Linked DNA regions of Homo sapiens. The protein of the gene in region 2 interacts with the protein of the main gene of each other region in a pairwise test. Each region holds a gene or a part of one and is shown on either strand. Other genes may lie near its edges.

Evidence for each region. The genes of interacting proteins can lie anywhere in the genome.
Region 1: the proteins of TMEM101 (region 2) and NINJ2 interact in binary tests that used the Homo sapiens proteins (3 or more experiments, as listed by UniProt).

The regions. Positions count from the first base shown.
Region 1 is NC_000012.12:653,446-656,945, reverse strand, and holds part of NINJ2 (ninjurin-2), read left to right. Parts: intron 1-3,500. UniProt on the Homo sapiens protein: Its role in unclear. In contrast to NINJ1 paralog, does not mediate plasma membrane rupture (cytolysis) downstream of necroptotic and pyroptotic programmed cell death.
Region 2 is NC_000017.11:44,011,535-44,017,004, reverse strand, and holds the start of TMEM101 (transmembrane protein 101), read left to right. Parts: upstream 1-2,041; 5' UTR 2,042-2,052; coding exon 2,053-2,189; intron 2,190-2,467; coding exon 2,468-2,648; intron 2,649-3,849; coding exon 3,850-3,996; intron 3,997-4,768; coding exon 4,769-5,077; 3' UTR 5,078-5,470. UniProt on the Homo sapiens protein: May activate NF-kappa-B signaling pathways.

The DNA of each region.
Region 1 (3,500 bases), on a different chromosome or scaffold from region 2:
TGGATGCCCGGTTATTCTGGCACCATTCGTTGAAAAGACTATCTCTGCTACATCGTATTGTCTTTGTTCCTTTATCAAAGATCAGTTGGGTCTATTTCTGGGTTCATTATTCTGTTCCATTGATCTATTTGTCTATTCTTTGTCCAAAACACATTGTCTTAATTATTGTAGCTTTACAGTAATTTTTTTTTTTTTTTGAGACAGAGTCTTGCTCTGTCACCCAGGCTACAGTGCAGTGGCGCAATCTCGGCTCACTGCAACCTCCACCTCCCAAGTTCAAGCGATTCTCCTGCCTCAGCCTCCCGAGTAGCTGGGATTACAGGGGCCCGCCACCACATCTGGCTAATTTTTGTATTTTTAGTAGAGATGGGGTTTCACCATCTTGGCCAGGCTGGTCTCGAACTCCTGAACTTGTGATCCACCAGACCCTACCTCCCAAAGTGCTGGGATTACAGGTGTGAGCCACCATGCCTGGCCGCTTTACAGTAATTCTTCAAGTCGGGTAGTGTCAGTCCTCTGACTTTGTTCTTTTCCTTCAGTATTTTGTCACCTATTTTGGGTTTATTTTATTTTATTTTATTTTTAGACAGAGTCTCACTCTGTCTCCAGGCTGGAGTGCAGTGACGTAATCTTGGCTCACTGCAACCTCCGCCTCCTGGGTTCAAGTGATTCTCCTGCCTCAGCTTCCCAAGTAGCTGGGACAACAGGTGCCCACCACCACGCCCAGCTAATTTTTTGTATTTTTAGTAGAGATGGGGTTTCACCATGTTGGCCAGGATGGTCTCGATCTCTTGACCTCATGATCCACCCACCTCAGCCTCCCGAAGTGCTGGGATTACAGGCGCGAGCCACTACGCCCTGCGGGTCTTTTGCTTCTCTATATAAACTAACTATACAATTAGTTTGTTGATATTCACAACTGATTTTGATTGGGATTGTTTGAATCTATAGTGAGTCCTCTTATCCATAAACATGGAATATCTATCTATCTATTTATTTTATATTTATTTATAAATTTATTTATTTATTTATTAAGATGGAGTCTTGCTCTGTCACCCAGGCTGGAGTACAGTGGCACAATCTCAGCTCACTGCAAACTCCGCTTCCCAGGTTGAAGCAATTCTCCTGCCTCAGCCTCCTGAGTAGCTGGGATTACAGGTGCGTGCCACCATGCCCAGCTAATTTTTGTATTTTTAGTAGTGACAGGGTTTCACCATGTTGACCAGGCTGGTCTCGAACTCCTGACCTCAAGTGATCCACCCGCCTCAGCCTCCCAAAGTGCTGAGATTACAGACGTGAGCCACCGCGCTTGTCCCCTTCATTTATTTAGTTCCTTGATTTATTTAATCAGTTTTGTAGTTTTCCTCATAATAGATATTGTACATATTTTGTTAGATTTATACATAGGCATTTCACTTTTTTAGGTGCTAATGTAAATGGTAGTGTTTTAAGTTTCAGATTCTACTTGTTCAGTGCTGTTTCATAGGAAAGTGATTGCATTTTATGTATTAACCTTGTATCCTGCAACCTTGCTATAATTGCTTATTAGTTCCAGCAGATTTTTGGTCAGTTCATTTAGATTTTCTACATAGACAATCATGTCATCTGCAAACAGAGATAGTTTTATTTCTTCACTCCCAATCTGTAGTCCCTTCATTTCCTTTTTCTGAAGGAACTACATTGCATTTACTAGGACTTCCTAGCAAAGACTGGGAAACTGCTAAGACTTGTTCATACTGAATGCAAATTCAATGTATGAAGCAGTGGTGACAGGAGACATCCTTGCCTGTTTCTAATCTTAGTGGGAGTGCTTCTACTTTCTTATCATTAAGTATGATGTTAGTTATAGGCTTTTTGTAGATATTCTTTATCAAATTGAGGAAATTATCTAGTGTACTGAGAGTTTTTATCATGAATGGGTGTTGAATTTTGCCAAATACTTTTTCTACATCTATTAATATGATCATGTGATTTTTCTTTTTTAGTCAGTTGGTGTGATTAATTACATTAATTGATTTTCTTTTGTTTTTATTTTATTCTCTTTTTTTTTTTTTGAAATGGAGTTTGGATCTTGTTGCCCAGGCTGGAGTGCAATAGTTGATCTCAGTTCACTGCAACCTCCACCTCCCAGGTTCAAGTGATTCCCCTGCCTCAGCCTCCCGAGCAGCTGAGATTACAGGCGGGTGTCACCACGCCCGACTAATTTTGTATTTTTAGTAGAGACAGGTTTCTCCATGTTGGTCAGGCTTGTCTTGAACTCCCAACCTCAGGTGATCCACCCACCTCGGCCTCCCAAAGTGCTAGGGTTAAAGGCGTGAGCCACTGCACCTAGCATTAATTGATTTTCAAATGTTGAACCAGTCCTGCATACCTGGACTAAACCCCAGTTGGTGTGGTGTATAATTCTTTTTTTTTTTTTTTTTTGAGACGGAGTTTCACTCTTGTTGCCTAAGCTGGAGTGCAATGGCATGATCTCGGCTCACCGCAACCTCTGCCTCCCGGGTTCAAGCAATTATCCTGCCTCAAGGTCCGGAGTAGCTGGGATTATACGCATGTGCCACCATGCCCGGCTAATTTTTATATTTTTAGTAGAGACGGGGTTTCTCCATGTTGGTCAGGCTGGTCTCGAACTCCTGACAGGTGATCTGCCCACCTCGGCCTCCCAAAGTGTGGGATTACAGGCGTGAGCCACCGTGCCTGACCCCATCCATTTACTTTTAATCCGTATGTGTCTTTTTTTGTTTGATACAAGGTCTTACTCTATCACCCATCACCCAGGCTGGAGTGCAGTGGCACCATCTTGGCTCACTGCAGCCTGAAATGCCTTGGCACAAGCAATCCTCCCACTTCAGCCTCCCAAGCAGCTAGGACTACAGGCACAAACCACCACACCCAGCTATTTTCTTATTCTTTGTAGAGATGGGGTCTCACTATATTGCCCAGGCTAGTCTTACTCCTGGCTTCAAGTGATTTTCCCATTTCAGCCTCCTAAAGTGCTGGGTTACAGGGGTGAGATACCACACTCAGCTGATCTATATGTATCTTTATGGTTAATGTGAGTTTCTTGTAGACAACATACAGTTGAGTCTTCTTTTTGTGTCCATCCTGACAATTTCTGCCTTTCAATTATGCACTTAGACCATTGACATTCAAAGTGATTACTGATATAGTTGGATCTACCACATTTGTTACTGTTTTTCTATTTGTTACCCTCATTCTTTGCTCCTATTTTTGTCTTCCACTTTTTTTTTTGCCTTTGGTGGTTTTAACTGAGCATTTTATATGTTCCTGTTTTATCTCCATTCATAGTGTATCAGTTGTACTTTTTTTTAACTTTTTTTAGTTATTGCCCTGGAGTTTGCAGTTTACAAGTACAACAAATCCAAGTGCACTTTCAAATAACACTATACCATTTCATGGATCGTGTGAGTACCTTATGATAACAAAACAATCCTAATTCCTCCATCCTGTTCCACGTATCATTGCTGGCATTCATTTTA
Region 2 (5,470 bases):
ACAGCCATCACGTCTGGCTAATTTTTGTATTTTTAGTAGAGACGGGGTTTCACCATCTTGGCCAGGCTGGTCTTGAACTCCTGACCTCGTGATCCACCCGACTCGGCCTCCTAAAGTGCTGGGATCACAGGCGTTAGCCACCGCGCCCAGCCCAACACCTTTTCATTTATCTGTACAGCACATATTTCCTGAGGGCATCCTGTATACTAGGTCCTGAGGGCATCCTGTATACTACAGATGGTTCCCAGCATTGGAGTTTTCAACTTTACATTGGTGCGAAAGCAGATCTGCATTCAGTGGAAACTGTATTTCTCTTACAATGCTGGGCAGTGTCAGCAAGCCACAGCTTCCAGTCAGCCACACATTTTCAACTTACAGTATTTTCAACCTATGATGGGTTTATCAGGATATAACTCCATCACAAGTCAAGGAGCATCTGTAAACAGTAAACAGAAACCCAGGCACCGTGTTTGTGCTTAGGGAGCTTGCGATCTAGTAGGGGAAGATTGTCAATAAAACAATCACAAATATATTGGCTGGGTGCGGTGTCTCACGCCTGTAATCCTAGCGCTTTGGGAGGCCAAGGCGGTTGGATCGCTTGAGGTTAGGAGTTCGAGAGCAGCCTGGCCAACATGGTGAAACCCTGTCTCCACTAAAAATAAAAATTAGCCGGGTGTGGTGGCAAGCGCCAGTAATCCCAGCTACTTGGGAAGCTGAGGCAGGAGAATCGCTTGAACCTGGGAGGTGTAGGCTGTAGTGAGCCAAGATCGCACCACTGCACTCCAGCCTGGGTGACACAGTGAGACCCTGTCTCAAAAATAAAAAAAAAGCATATATATGTAAAGCAGATATATATATATGTGTGTGTGTGTGTGTGTGCGTGTGTATCTATATCTATCTATCTATCTAATTGCCACCGTGCCAAGTGATTCAAAGGAAGGTAGCTGATGTTATGAGAACATATAAACGGGTGGGGCGTGGGAGAAGGGGCTGAGAACACACTGGAGGGGAATGCAGAGACCACCTGGATGTCTGCTGCAATTAAACTGACAAAGTATGACAATTTGGGTTACAGCGGGAGCATGGCAGCTGGAGAAATGGACTGACTTGAGATGTCCCAGATGTTCAGATCTCCTTTTTCTCTCAGGGCACAGGCAAAAGGCAAACCCAAAGAGGTGACTTTGAGCCAGGAGGACCCCTTACTTTGATCTTAACAGAAACGGGGGTTTCCTCTGGTGCGTTATGTGTATCATTTATTGAACCACTACTATGTACTAGGACCGACCTTGTCACATTTAAAGTTCACAACTCTGGCCTGGCGCGGTGGCTCATGCCTGTAATCCCAGCACTTTGGGAGGCCGAGGCGGGCGGATCACGAAGTCAGGAGATCGAGACCATCCTGGCTAAGACGGTGAAACTCCGTCTCTACTAAAAATACAAAAAATTAGCCGGGCGTGGTGGCGAGAGCCTGTAGTCTCAGCTACTCAGGAGGCTGAGGCAGGAGAATCGCTTGAACCCAGGTTGCGGAGGTTACAGTGAGCCAAGATCGTGCCATTGCACTCCAGCCTAGGCGACAGAGTGAGACTCCGTCTCAAAAACAAAACAAAACAAAAAAAAAAGAAAAAAAAAGTTCACAACTCTGAGGTAGGTGTAATTATCCCCATTTCATGATGAGTCTCATAAAGTTTAGGTGATGTGCCCAGAATCACACAGGGTTGGAATCAGGATTAGGGCCCTGATCGGGCTGCATTCAAAGACCAGTTTGCTTCAATACATCATACTACGGTCCAAGACTTCTGCTATCCTGAACCCACTGTTCCTTCCTCTAGTCTAGTTTTCAAATTCGCAGGGACAAATATGGCCCTGAAGGCTCCATGAGCAGACGAGAAGGCTGGACTTCGCAACTGGGTCACCTTAGATCCGGAACTAGAGAATGACACCGTTGTTTCCGGGAGGAAAAAGAAAAAGCGCTTGACCCGGAAGCTGCGTGTCCCATCCCCGCGCCTGCTTCTCTGACTGGGGTGAGGCCGCAGCGGACTGCCCTTTCCCAAGATGGCGTCGAAGATAGGTTCGAGACGGTGGATGTTGCAGCTGATCATGCAGTTGGGTTCGGTGCTGCTCACACGCTGCCCCTTTTGGGGCTGCTTCAGCCAGCTCATGCTGTACGCTGAGAGGGCTGAGGCACGCCGGTGAGCAGGCCTACGCAGCCGCTAAACGCGGCAGGGGGCGGTGATGTGGGCAAGAAATTGGGGGCTAGAAGTCGGGACCCTTGAACTGGGAGGAATTGGGACCTCCCTGGGAGGGGTTCTGGTCTGGGTGTCGGACCAAATCTGGTAGGGCGGTCCTGCCCATGGGAGGGGAGTCTGGTTTGGGGGAGCAGTGGAGCCTGTGGGAACTCAAGGGGTCTCAAGCTTCTTCCCCCACCGCTTCATTCTGTCCTCGTTGCTTCCCCACTCCCGGCTCGCAGGAAGCCCGACATCCCAGTGCCTTACCTGTATTTCGACATGGGGGCAGCCGTGCTGTGCGCTAGTTTCATGTCCTTTGGCGTGAAGCGGCGCTGGTTCGCGCTGGGGGCCGCACTCCAATTGGCCATTAGCACCTACGCCGCCTACATCGGGGGCTACGTCCACTACGGGGACTGGCTGAAGGTGAGCGCCTCGGCCCCAAAAGGGTCTTCCCTCTGGGTGACGGGGAATCAGAGGCCAATGCCCAGGGCTGTTGGTGGGCGATGAATGGTGCTGGCCAGCTGCACAGTGTGAAGCCTGGGAGGTTCGAACCCCTTGGCTTATGGAGATTACAGAGCGCAGAAATGGATCTTAGAGACCACACAAACTTCCTCTTCAAAGTGTGGAAACTGAGGTCTAGAGATGGGAAACAGACTTTCCCAAAGCCACAATACAGGATACTGGTGGGACCAGAACCCCGGTCACCTGGTTCCCAGAATCTTTTAAACTGTTAGTTTAGTAATCTCAGACTCATGGGGTACAAAGGACCTTGGAGAGTACCTAGTTTTCATAAAATAAATTTTATGAAAATGTAATTACTGTTAGTATAGCATTTAAGCCAGAACCTGTGCCAGGCCCTGCAGGCTGGAGATAAGGTTGGACAAAGGCACTGTCCTTGAGGAAGAGACTGTCAGACCCTTAGGGGAGGAAGATGTGTGAACAGCTACAGGGCAGCAAGATCAATGTTTTTGTGGCATAGATCCCATGCCATGTAGAATAAAGAACACCAAGATTAGAGTCTACAGATCTGAGAGTGGGGAAGGGAGAAACACATTGTGTCTGGGTTCTGCCACTTACTGGCAGGTAGGACCTGCCAGTTTTCTTTTTTGTTGTTGTTTTTTGAAACAGAGTCTCTCTCCGTCGCCCAGGCTGGAGTGCAGTGACGCTGTCTCAACTCACTGCAACCTCCGCCTTCCAGGTTCAAACGATTCTCCTGCCTCAGTCTCCCAAGTAGTTGGGATTACAGGCGCCCTTCCCCACGCCCGACTAATTTTTGTATTTTCAGTAGACAGGGTTTCCTCATGTTGGCCAGGCTAGTCTCAAACTCCTGACCTCAGGGTGATCCACCTGCCTCGGCCTCCCAAAGTGCTGGGATTACAGGCGTGAGCCACTGCGCCTGGCCAGACCTGACAGTTTTCTTAACCCTCTGGGCCTCAGTTTCTACTTCTATATATATATAAAAAGAATGATCTGTCTCTGTTGCACCTGCCCACCAAGCTTGGAAATGTAAGAGGGTTCATCAGATGGAATGGGATGTGTAGAGAGGGGTGGTTCTACACTCTGGGAAGCCAGGAGAGATGTGGCGGCTGCAGTTCTTGACTGGGGTCCCCTTACCCCGGCCTAGGTCCGTATGTACTCGCGCACAGTTGCCATCATCGGCGGCTTTCTTGTGTTGGCCAGCGGTGCTGGGGAGCTGTACCGCCGGAAACCTCGCAGCCGCTCCCTGCAGTCCACCGGCCAGGTGTTCCTGGGTATCTACCTCATCTGTGTGGTATGTTGGGGGACTGTTGGTTGGAGGTGCCTGGCTGGGAGTGAACTGTGAGTCTAGGCATGGCAGAACCCCAGGAAGGTAGACACAGAACGAGGCCCTGAGTGCAGTTCCTGATGGCCCAGTTCCCTGGGAATTGCCCTGGCCAGCTTCTAGGCCTCAGGGGCCCTCCAAATGCCTGTTGAGAGGCCCTTCCTCCAACAGTGTTGCCACGAGGTAGACTGGCCATTAAATTTCAACCCTGAGAGCCAGGAGAACAAGATGGGGTGATTCTCTCATGGCTCCAGCCCCCAAAGGACTAGAAGGGGATAAAGGAGAGGTTTGGTGGGGGTCAGGCCCCAGCTGGGACTCTGCCCCCTAGAGCTGATGAGAGCTCTAGGGTAGCCACTTATGGTTCTCCCTGGTGCTAGGGGAGGCCAGGGTGACTGGAGACATGGACAGGCGCCAGGCCATTAGGTCTTATCTTAATTACCGAGTATATCTCTGTACAGCTCTCTGTGTGGGCTCCCATATTCAGAGGTGGGAGCTCTAGTCTGACTGTGGAAATACACTTCCTTCATAGCCCCTAGGGTGAGGGGAGACATGGGCCCTAATCTCCTGGGGCTCCATAGTCCGAGGGGGAGACAAAGGCCCTACTTTCAGAGGTTCCCCAGTCCAAGAGGGGAGTCAGAAGCCCATCTGCAGGGACTCATTTGCAGGTGCCATCTCAGGGGTGGTTTACCCCAGACAGGCTTCTGAGCCTGTTGGAGAGTCTTAGAGGATGTTATGTCTCCAGGCCTACTCACTGCAGCACAGCAAGGAGGACCGGCTGGCGTATCTGAACCATCTCCCAGGAGGGGAGCTGATGATCCAGCTGTTCTTCGTGCTGTATGGCATCCTGGCCCTGGCCTTTCTGTCAGGCTACTACGTGACCCTCGCTGCCCAGATCCTGGCTGTACTGCTGCCCCCTGTCATGCTGCTCATTGATGGCAATGTTGCTTACTGGCACAACACGCGGCGTGTTGAGTTCTGGAACCAGATGAAGCTCCTTGGAGAGAGTGTGGGCATCTTCGGAACTGCTGTCATCCTGGCCACTGATGGCTGAGTTTTATGGCAAGAGGCTGAGATGGGCACAGGGAGCCACTGAGGGTCACCCTGCCTTCCTCCTTGCTGGCCCAGCTGCTGTTTATTTATGCTTTTTGGTCTGTTTGTTTGATCTTTTGCTTTTTTAAAATTGTTTTTTGCAGTTAAGAGGCAGCTCATTTGTCCAAATTTCTGGGCTCAGCGCTTGGGAGGGCAGGAGCCCTGGCACTAATGCTGTACAGGTTTTTTTCCTGTTAGGAGAGCTGAGGCCAGCTGCCCACTGAGTCTCCTGTCCCTGAGAAGGGAGTATGGCAGGGCTGGGATGCGGCTACTGAGAGTGGGAGAGTGGGAGACAGAGGAAGGAAGATGGAGATTGGAAGTGAGCAAATGTGAAAAATTCCTCTTTGAACCTGGC